Homo sapiens: one gene and its partner. The protein of the gene in region 2 interacts with the protein of the main gene of each other region in a biochemical or structural test. Each region holds a gene or a part of one and is shown on either strand. Other genes may lie near its edges.

What was found.
Region 1: the proteins of SNTG1 (region 2) and DMD form a complex in vitro, tested with the Homo sapiens proteins (one study listed by BioGRID).

The regions. Positions count from the first base shown.
Region 1 is NC_000023.11:31,118,667-31,122,802, forward strand, and holds the end of DMD (dystrophin), read right to left. Parts: intron 3,265-4,136; coding exon 3,253-3,264; coding exon of another isoform or gene 3,167-3,252; 3' UTR 556-3,166; downstream 1-555. UniProt on the Homo sapiens protein: Anchors the extracellular matrix to the cytoskeleton via F-actin. Ligand for dystroglycan.
Region 2 is NC_000008.11:50,656,331-50,663,638, reverse strand, and holds part of SNTG1 (gamma-1-syntrophin), read right to left. Parts: intron 6,731-7,308; coding exon 6,614-6,730; intron 5,048-6,613; coding exon 4,976-5,047; intron 1-4,975. UniProt on the Homo sapiens protein: Adapter protein that binds to and probably organizes the subcellular localization of a variety of proteins. May link various receptors to the actin cytoskeleton and the dystrophin glycoprotein complex.

The DNA of each region.
Region 1 (4,136 bases), on a different chromosome or scaffold from region 2:
CAAATGAAATGATGTAATGAGAAATGTGCAATATTGTTTGTTATAGCAAAAGAAAGACTGACAACAGACTACATATCCCACCAAAGGGAACTGCTTAAATAAAATATCCTATGAACATATAATGAAATATTATACAGCTATAAAAAAGAATGAGAAAGCATTTTATATATTTAAATGAAAAGATTTCTTGAGTCCATATTTAAATTTAAACAAACAAACAAGTAAGGTGCATAACTGGGTGCAGAGAATGCTATATCCTATGAAATAATAATAGGAAAAAAATAAATAGGAACATATATATTATTTTAACTGCTTATATAATAATTAATAAAGAAAGACCCTCTGGAAGACTAAATAAGAAATTAATAATGTCTACTCATAGAGCAATGAGGATGATTGATTGATATGGGGGAAGGGGTAGTTAGGAGTGTTTTCACTGTCTTTCTGGATTATAGTTTTTTACTCATATGCATGTATTACCTATTTAAAAAGTAAGTAAGTAAGTAACAACAACTAAATTAAAATAAAAACAAAGTACTGCAGTCCAGTCAATACTTTTTTGTAACATAACTGCGTGCTTTATTGAGATACACAGTAAAGCAGTACTATAATACAATAGTAAGGCATATATTTGGTGAAGTCTGATATGTTGTGAAAATGCAGTAAAACTGAAGTTTAAAAAAATAATTCGTAAATGTTACAGTGTTGGTGTTAAAACACAATATATTATGATACTCAAGTAAGAACTCAGTACCTGAAAACAATGACAAAACATGCCATGTGATGTTTATGCTTCAGTTACATTATGATTTACAGTTTAATACTTGGTGGTTATAAAGAACACAACACGAAATAATGTCCAAATTAATTATGCTTAAAATGCAGCAATAAAGCTCTCAATTTTTGTTCAAATATTATGACAGACTCACTCCAGAGCTAATGTGTCTAAAAGAAAAACAAAAAGATTAAAACAAAATTATTTATGCACTCTATTTACCTCTGATTTTAGAATGAAACTTACTTACTTAAACTTCTTAGTAGGATGTAAAGTAACCCCTTGTTTTAAATCTGAGTTTTAAAAATCCTTGGGTAAAGAAAAGGTCCAGCGTCACATAAAGGAAAAAAATGCAAGACAAAAACCAAATCTTCATGTAATTTGGTAATTTGTTACCTTAGAGCTTTGGGTTTTCTTTTGAAAATTATGAAGGAAAAAGAAAGAATTATAAAGGAAAAAGAAAATAACGCAATGGACAAGTGGTGAAGCTGTGAACTCAGGTGTGCACAATTATCAGGAACACCCCAAAACCAAAGTGAGGTAGAAATAGCATGAGAAGCCGTGTTTGATGTTAATTAATTAATTATTAATAATGGACAAAACCCACTCTCCAAAAGCTAATTACACTTGATGTCAGCCCACTCTCCAAAAGCTAATTACACTTGATGTCAGAGGTAACAGATTTGCAAAATTATAGGTCACACGGTGGTATCTATTGAATGAATGATTTAAAAATCAAAAAGAAATAAAATGGCATGAAAGAGTAAAGCTTTTTCCTACCAGTCCTTAGCTTTTCCTCTTGAGCTTTTCTCCTCTTTTTTGAGCAATTTTTGTTTGTTTGTTTATATATTTAACCTGTCTAATCCACCAAGAAGGGTTTTTTTGTAACATTTGAATCAATTTGCCTTCTTTCTTACTTACTTACAAACCTGTGTGGAACTACTCGCAGAGAAATGCAAAGGATGGAAACACAGTTCATGGGCTTCTGGGTTGATACCTGTCAGTATCACAAATGTGATGGGGCTACTGTTTTACACCTTTTCCCAAAGTTTATTTATTTTAAATTATGTCTTGTGGCATTTAAAAACTCATCCCACATGGGACAATAAATCTAAAAAAGCAACAAAAACCAAACCACCCAGTTCCTTTTGACTGTGAGAAGAGGGCATAATAATTTAGTTGTAATTACAGAGAACTTTATGTATTATGAACAATCATCCAATCCTTCACTTAAAGAGTGGCCTACTCCTTCACAGGGATGGGCTGGGAATCCATAGCCCTCCAGCCCTATCATCGTCCTGCTACTGCTTGGGAGTTAAAAAATACCTTCTGATGTTCACAAGGTCAGAATACCTTCTGATTGATTTCCACTGAAGCATCATTAAATCTAAATCGTGGCATTGCTAGCAGCAGGAAGCTGAATGTATCAATCAATCAATCAATCAACCAACCAACCGATTACTCACTCTGATATAATAAGTCCTGTGTATTCATTCACATGTTCCCTTTAAAAAAATCCAATACTTTACTTTACTTTCGTTGTCAGTGGAAAGTTGTTTAAAATGAGAAACATCTGGAGCTGTAGACAATGTTTTAGTGTGGTGTAGTTTCCTCCTGGCTTCCGGCTCCGGGAAAAATCCATTCTAGACCAAGCAGGTAAGCCTGGATGACTGACTAGAAGTAATTTCTTTCTATTAGGATGTGACATGAACATTTAAAAAATGGAAAAAGTCAGTCTATAGAAATTCGTATCTCTTTATCTATATAACTATAGTATTTATATACTTATAGACATATAGATATATGAAATGAAAACTCAAGCCTGCCCCACTCAGCTGACAGTTCTCAAATGAGCAGTGTGTAGTAGTCATTTGGTGTGGTGGTAGAGGAAGTCTTATCTTTAATATGCAAAAAAAGAAAAAGCCATGAATTTCATATGGATATCACGCCAAAAGGATGCAAAACAATGCGCTGCCTCAAAGTTTTGTGTGTGTGTGTGTATGTGTGTGTGTGTGTGTTTGTTTTGTTTTTAGGGGTTTTTATAAACAACTTTTTTTTATAAAGCACACTTTAGTTTACAATCTTTCTTTATAACTGTTATAAATTTTTAAACAACCCAAAATGCGTTCCATATAAAGAAATGGCAAGTTATTTAGCTATCAAGATTTTACATGTAGTTTTCTTATAACTTTTTTGTACAATTGCATAGACGTGTAAAACCTGCCATTGTTAACAAAACAATAACAGACTTAGAAACTACTGAAATCTACAGTATAATACCACTACCCTTCACAAAAATATAGATTTATTTCTTGTAAACTCTTACTGTCTAATCCTCTTTGTTGTATGAATATTATAAAAACCATGCGGGAATCAGGAGTTGTAAAACATTTATTCTGCTCCTTCTTCATCTGTCATGACTGATACTAAGGACTCCATCGCTCTGCCCAAATCATCTGCCATGTGGAAAAGACTTCCTACATTGTGTCCTGGAAAACAAAGAGAAAGAAAGACAGACTTTACAAAAGGTGCAGATAGATAGCATCACTCTGTTTCTTTGCCATTTGGGAAATCATTCCCCATTTCTGGGTGAAGACAACACAGAAGCTGCATCGAGGGTGTACACAACAAGGTTTGATTTTTCACCAGTTTCCAGGAAGAAGCAAAGCCTTATTAATGAAGCCATTACACGTTGTTTGTTAGTATCAGCTTAATGTTGGATCAGGCTACTGGTGTTTACATGGAAAAATGTCAAGCTACATTCAGGTTCCCAATGTAAATATATATCAAAAGAATTCCATAGATAAGCACAAGATTTCTATCAGAACAGGAATATTCCATGATGGGATACATCTTTTCCACCTTGGCTATGAGTGATTGATTGATTACTTACTCTCTACTTGTATTAACGAACATTTTTTTTACTATCAATCAAACCACCATCACCACCTTCACAACTACCACTACCATCACCAGCACCCAACCATCGTCACCATTATCACTGCCACCATCACCGCCACACCAACTTTTCATTTCAAAGCTGTTTCAGGCTGTTGGCTTGCTTCTGAGGCTATGGTGGAGGTGGCTATTTTCTCTCTGCTTTTACTTGGGTTGAAAAATAATAATAATAAACTCTTGAATTGACCTTTTGGTGCACTATTAACATTTGAATTAGGAAACCTCAGAATAAAAATTGCTTTACATTCCAAATTACTCTAGACCCTAATTATAAGGTGACCCACATGTATTGTATGCATTTGGGTATTTTGTGAATCCATCTTAGAGCTCCTCCTAAATGAGGGTTAACTATCACAATAGCCTTTTACTAATAATGCAGCACGACCTAGCACGAATCTCCCAG
Region 2 (7,308 bases):
GTCTTTTTTCCAGCCATGCACCACTACAGTGCCGTGTTAGGGAGTTACAGCTCAGGCTAGAATCAGAGCAAAACGAGTCAAACCAGAGCGGTGCAAGAAGGCTGGTCTATGCAGGTGAGTAGCTACTGTGAGGGCACTATCTATTCAGGCCCGACTCCTCTGCCTCTCTCCTCCTAGCCCGCTGTCCATGCCCTGGTTGACCAGAAGATGTCCCAGGAGCACTCCCCTCTGGCCCCTTCATCTCCATCTCACGTTGCATTCGAAGAGGATTTTTAAATGGGCAACCTCAGTCCCTCCCTATGCTTGACATGCTTTAGTGGCTGTCCTTTGTTCCTCAGATAAAGTTCATGTGCTTTATTAAGGCCTTTTCCTATGATCTGTTCCATCCAAACACCAACACCAACCTCATACCCAAGATGACTACAGCTGTAACAAACTTGTTTGCCTTGTTGAAGGGACACATACTTCTTTGTAGCTCTGGGCAAGTTTATACATTATTCCTTGGACCAGGTTGCTCCTCCCCTCCTACTGGCTGGACTCCAACCCCTGCCATGACACATCTTCCTCTGTGGAGCCCTTTCACAGTCACTTAGGTTTCAGTTCATTAAAAGCCTCCTCCAAAATGCCCTTCCTAAACTCCTTCATCAGCTGGAATTTTTGTGAGTTCAACTCTCTTATACTGTTGTATTTATCCTTAATACCTAGTGGAGTGCTTGGCACATAGAAGGTACTCGAAGTAACTGATATGAATTAACAGACAAAAATGCATTCACAAATCAGTTAACCAATTCCTAATCTTCACAGCACCCTCTGCATCCATAGCTGCATTTCACAGATGAAGAACTGAAGTTCATAGTGCCCAATACACTCATAAAGGGTAATGTTTTAGTAACAGAAGTGGCATTTGTTGCCAAATTCCTTTTTCTGAAACCTTTGCTCTCTCATCAGTACCAGGCTGGCTCTCTGGTTCCCATCTTTTTTCCCAAATTATCAATATTTACGCTGAGAGACAGAGACAGTGTAGTATCATGTGCAAGAGCACAGAATTTTGACACATTGCAAGATTCATATCTTTAGCTCTGATATTTACTAGCTGTGTGACCTTAGGCTATTTACTTAAACTGCTTTTTGCCTCAGTTTCCAAATCTCTAAAATGGGAATAACAATAACTGACAGATAGTGGTGCTGTAAATACAAACTGAATTCATATACTAAGCACTTAGGACAACACCTGGCACATACATATAAACTATATGTACCAGATAAACCTTATTGCTTCATTTTTGTTATTACTGGTGTAGCTTCATTATGAACACATCAGAAGGGACAGGATTTTCCTGATTAATGGTCACAGGCAAGTTCTTCTGTGATCCAGACATTCAAATCTGACTTTTAATTAGCCTCACCTGAGGGATCCATTTTCTGGAGGCAGAAGTCTACAACTTGCACAGCTTGCATCAGAAGTGATACCTCATGGCAGGAGAGGGCTGGGCTGTAGAAGACTCCCCCTCTGATTTAGGCTGTAGAAGATGCCCCTTCTTATTTGCTCACCTGCCCCACCTATCTGACTGGCTTCCTTATCAACCAGTGATCCTGACACAGGAGAAGGCCAGAAGGTAATCTGCATGCAGGAAAATAATCCATTAGCATCGAATCTAGAAGCCACTCCTCTGTTCTCATGCTACATGAAATTTTCCTTTGGGAAAAGGAATGCTTGAAGGATGGCTTTATATGTCTAATGTCAAGCCACAAAGCATAAAGCACCAGCATTGTACTTACTAAGGGGAGGGGGACTTCCTTGATTACATACAACAATTGAAGGTAGATTTACATTGTATTTGATGTATGAGAATACTTATCGCCAGGCCTCACTAACCTATGTAAACATTTTCCCAAGTAGAACATCACACACCAGGGCCTGTTGGGAGGTTGGGGGCAAGGGGAGAGACATCATTAGGACAAATACCTAATACATGCAGGGCCTAAAACCTAGATGATGGGTGGATAGGTGCAGCAAACCACCATGGTACATGTATACCTACGTAACAAAACTGTACGTTCTGCACATGTATCCCAGAACTTGAAGTATTAAAAAAATTCAAGTAAACTAAGGCTTATAGAAAATTGTATATAGAAAGTTAAAATGAGAAGTAGTCTTTGATTTTAATTTGGTCAGAATGTAAATATACAGGCACTCTCATAGACACTTCTGATGGCCGCATAAGTTAAGATGACTTGTAGGAGGCAATTTGTACACATGGATTTAATATCTTGAATACATTAAAATATTTTTCCACATGGGGTTTCCAAAGCTCAGAATTTAGACTAAAGGAAATAAGAATTTGCATAAAAGTCTGAGCAAATATCAGTCCTTCCTACATATTATTATTTTGTCTCATTTATTTACTTACTATTTTTGTCTTCTTTATTGATTTACTTAACATCATATCACCTAATAAAATGCAAGCTCAATGAAAGCAGTGGCTTTTTCTGCATTTTTCTCAGCCACATAACAAGTGCTGAGGTTACCTGGTATATAGCAAACATTTAATTTTCTATTAAACCATTCAAATAATGATTGTTGTGATATGCCTGATAGCAATAACAAGTGGGGGAAAAAACTAAATGTAAAATTTTAAAGTGGACTCAATGAATACAAGCAAATGATGGGATAGATGAAATCTATCAAAAAGTTATCAGTGTTTTTAAGGAACATTAACTGTCATAGAAAAAAATCTCAAGACATATTTTTACACAAAATAGCAGATCATGAATTGCATAATCTTTGTCAAAAATTGTAACAAAGAGATAGAACATATTGTTTGTATATCTTGATAGAGCTAAACATAATGTTTATTATTTCCTTTAAAATTATCCTTTTTAACTACTATAGTAAACTGCATTATGTTCTAATGTTTAAATAGCTTTTTTTAAAAGAGAGGATTTAAAAGATCATGCAGCTACTTGGAGAGTGGTTAGAAAATAATTTAAGTCTAAGTAAGAATATATAAATATGTGTTGCGTTATTACTATGATAAAAGTTGTATTAGTGTACAGATAGAGAATAGACAAAGTTGATTTGTTGAGGCAGTTTTCTTTCCTTCCTTCCTTCTCCCTCCCTCCCTCCCTTCCTTCTCCTTCCTTCTTTCCTTTCTCCCCTCTGTGCACTCCCTGCCCTTCCTCCCTTTCTTTTTTCTCTTTCTTTCTTTCTTCTTTCTTTCTTTCTTTTCTTTCTTTCTCTTTTTCTTCCTTCCTTCCTTCCTTCTTTCTCTCTCTCTCTTTCTTTCTTTCTTTCTCTTTCTTTCTTTCTTCTTTCCTTCTTACTGTCTCTCTTTCTTTCTCTTTCTTTCTTCTTTCCTTCTTTCTCTCTCTCTCTCCTTCCCTCCTTCTTTCCTTCCTTCTTTCCTTTTCTTTTCTTCTTTTCTTTTCCTTCTTTTCTTTTCTTTCTTTCTTTTCTTCCCCTAATTACATGAGTAGCTTTCCTAAAAATACACAGTTCGCCCTGGCGCGGTGGCTCATGCCTGTAATCCTAACACTTTGGGAGGCGGAGGTAGGCAGATTGCCTGAGCTCAGGAGTTCAAGACCAGCTTGGGCAACATGGGGAAACCCTGTCTCTACTAAAATGCAAAAAGTTAGCTGGGCATGGTGGCATGTGCCTGTAGTCCCAGCTACTCAGGAGGCTGAGGCAGGAGAGTTGCTTGAACCTGGGAGGTGGAGGTTGCAGTGAGCCGAGATCACACCACTGCACTCCAGCCTAAGCAACAGAGCAAGACTCCATCTCCAAAAAAAAGAAAGCTATCTCATTAGCCATTTTGGCAATTATTTCAGAAAACTGGAGTCGTGTATGATCTCCTTTTCCTCAGATACTAGCCTCTGTTTAAGAAATTGTCAGACCCTTCTTTACTAACAATACACTCAAGTATTTCAGGTTGTCCTTCCACCATTACGCCTACAGAAGAACTCAAAGCATGCACAGTGATGAGCAATCAATGAACTATACTTTTGGCTGGATTTTGCACTTCAGAGAACTTCAGCTTTAATCCAAAGTTCTCTATAAGGAACAGAAACTATAAACAATTTTGAGGTAATTATAATTTTTGTCTCTCTGCCTTCAGACACTTTTGATGCATTTTATTATATTTTAAATGTTTCAGCATTTTTCTACTCTGCTAAGTCTTTAACGGGAAGAGAAATAGCTAACATAAAGCAAAGGGAAATTAGCTCCCCTTGGATACAGAAACAAGGTCAACCTTATGCAGGAATTTAATTATCAATCTGTGGTGAGTCCAAGCCTACAAACCCTAAAGTAGAAAGTGAATATATATTAGTCTTCATGTTTTATAGGTTATTCCAATTTTAATTCTTTAAAAAACGCTATAGAAACCATGTGACATTTTATAGAATTTGTGATGGCTTGATATTGTAATAATCCTGCATATGGCATGAAATTCAACTGATATATGACAATCGAATGTTCTTTTACATATGCAAAAAGATGGTCAAGCCATGAGATTAAGAACAAAACAGCAAAACTTTTCTTTGCATTTTTCCTGATATTTTCTATATTTTCTAATTCCAGGTCTCACCCAAATCTTTCTCTTTTGCATTTTATTCAGAAAAAAAGAATTAAAAAAAAAAACATGGTAACAACCAACGTTTAAATTCAGACTACTTTCAACTGAATTTTCTTCTTCCCCAGTGAACTCCTGAGGAGCTTCTCCCTGTTCCCTCACCCACGGTGGGACTGCAGAGTCTGCTTGCAAGTTATTTAAGCAGATAGCTGAGTGCCAGTGCACTTCTGTGCATTCTATATTTTCTCTTTTTTGTCCAGTTTATTTTCTTTCTCTTTCATTTGTCTTTATCGTGTCTCTTCTTTCATTCCATGAATGATTTGTTTTCATGAGCTGCTTATGAGCCCAGAGGCACTATTTGCTGAGGAAAAGCCATTCAAATACTGACTACATATTGATCATACCTTGAGGATCTTGCACATAATCTCATAAACTGAGAATGTTTTCTCTGCTCTCGTCCAGTCCCAGGTGGTCACCTTTAAAAGATAAGAAAATAATGTTTAATTTGTTTTAGAAAGTTATTTACCACTGTATTTGATTTGCATAATATAGTGAAAAATAAGAAAAAACTTTCACAGATGTATCTAGTCTCTCATCTGTGAAGCCATGCTCATAAAGGACCCTACATAATGCTTTTGTTTCCTCTTTTCCAAGCTTTGTTACCATTTGTCTTATGCTTTCAGCAAATGATTTATATTATGTGCAACAGTTCTCATTTGCCCAGTGTCCTTATATATCTTAAATAATATACGCATTCTCTACCTATAAATACTAAGTATTTACATTCCACACTCATATTTTTTTTTTAATTTACCACTAGTTAAATACAGAGAATACCAGACCTCAACACAGCTATATTTTTTAAATATACATCATTTATATTAAGAAATTCCAAGATGACTGTGACATTGCAAACATACCCAAAGCATAATGCAGTTATTTCACTTACTTAGGTTGGAAACTATATTTAACTGTCTTGTCAAATAAATTATTCAGAGTAGGAATAGAGTAAAATATATAAATATCAATTTTTCCTCTGTCTTCCTAGTGCTTTAAACTTTGTGTAGAGACAGACATTTAAAACAGCAGCAAGTTAGACCTGATGATTTCTAAATCTTATGTATTATTAGACCTGCAAGTGACTGGTCTGGCATTTGGTATTTATATTCAATAAATATTTATTAAGTGTCTTCTGAGCTGCAAGGTACATGTTTCCAAAAGCAAGACTTGAGGTGCAATAGGTATCTATACATATCTAGTACAAATCTCAATAACTAGGATATAGAATATAATAGAAGATGAAAATGTTATTGATTTTATATAGAGAGACCTGTACAACATAAATAAGCAAGTTCGACTTGTCATAAATGATAGCTTACCAGAATGTATTTGTGTTGTTTGCCAAGGATAGAATCCTCTAATTTAAATGTTGAACACCATGAGAGTTAACATCATCCTATGGGATTACCATAGGGTGAGATAGACTTAATAGTAGCTAGATAAGATGCTATCATTTTGAAATTTCCTTATTATTCTTTGCTAATAATAAATTACTAGTAATTAAAAGTGCTGAATAAATTTAAAAGAACTTTCAAAAGATCCTTGGAAAATAAGAGTTTAGTAAACATGTTCATTCATGTATAGCCCTAAAACAGTTTATTCTTTTTTATTTCACTTTTGATATATTCATTTCTTTAATTTTTATTCCATAAACAAAATACACTGACATATGCTTGAAAATGTTTCTTAAAATCTCCTTTCCCATGTCGTCATGAGATTTGTAATGGCATTATAATTTGATCCATTATTTTATAGGTTCACTATTTATAAAGAAGTAAGTTCCAGACTTTTCAAGGGTGTTAAAGCAAATGTTTAATGTCAGAATATATATTTTAGTAAGTTAAATCAGATAAACTGATTTCTACTTTTTCTCTATATTATTTTTTAAAAATATTGATGGTATACTATTTGGTGCTGTTAAGTTGGTGTCAATCTCTTGTGATAATATGGAAACGACCAATACATTTCAATAAAACACGTACTGGAGGTGCCAGAAACTTGTAGAGACATGAGCCCCTCAGGGCCAGGAAGGTCGGGGAGTACACTCTGTCCTGGAGGGGGTCTTGCTCCCGGGCTTCACACCAGCCCATGTAGACAATCTGCAAGAAAATGGAATACAATCAACTGTCAAAACTTCTTATTTTAGATATCTTATATCTAAAAATATTTAGATGCAAATATTAAAAATATTTTAGGTATTTTTCATGTAGTATTAAAAACTCACATAAAATTATCAAATTGATTGATGCAAAAAAGTACATTAAACCAGATTTGGCTTCAGTAAATGAATGTAAACCTCTCATAAGAATTTCTTATACGTTTCTACCAGCATTTATCAAGTGTTTATGCCATCCAACCTGCCATGGATTATATTTCCCACTCTATCAATTCTTACAGAAAAAAATACTTATTTATAATAGAATTCATTGATGCATCGCACTTGTTTACCAATTACTGACATTTTATTAATTGGGAATGTGCTTTAATACAGAATGTTGAAGTGAGTAAAGAAAGCAAATCAGATAGACATCTTATGGCAATACCACTAGGGCGGCACACCACTTCTCCTCTGTGCCTGATAGGGGAGAATGATAAATGCCCTCCTTTTAATCATTGATCTTAGATGAATACAATTTATGCTAGTGTATTCATATATCAAATGGCATTGAAATCAACT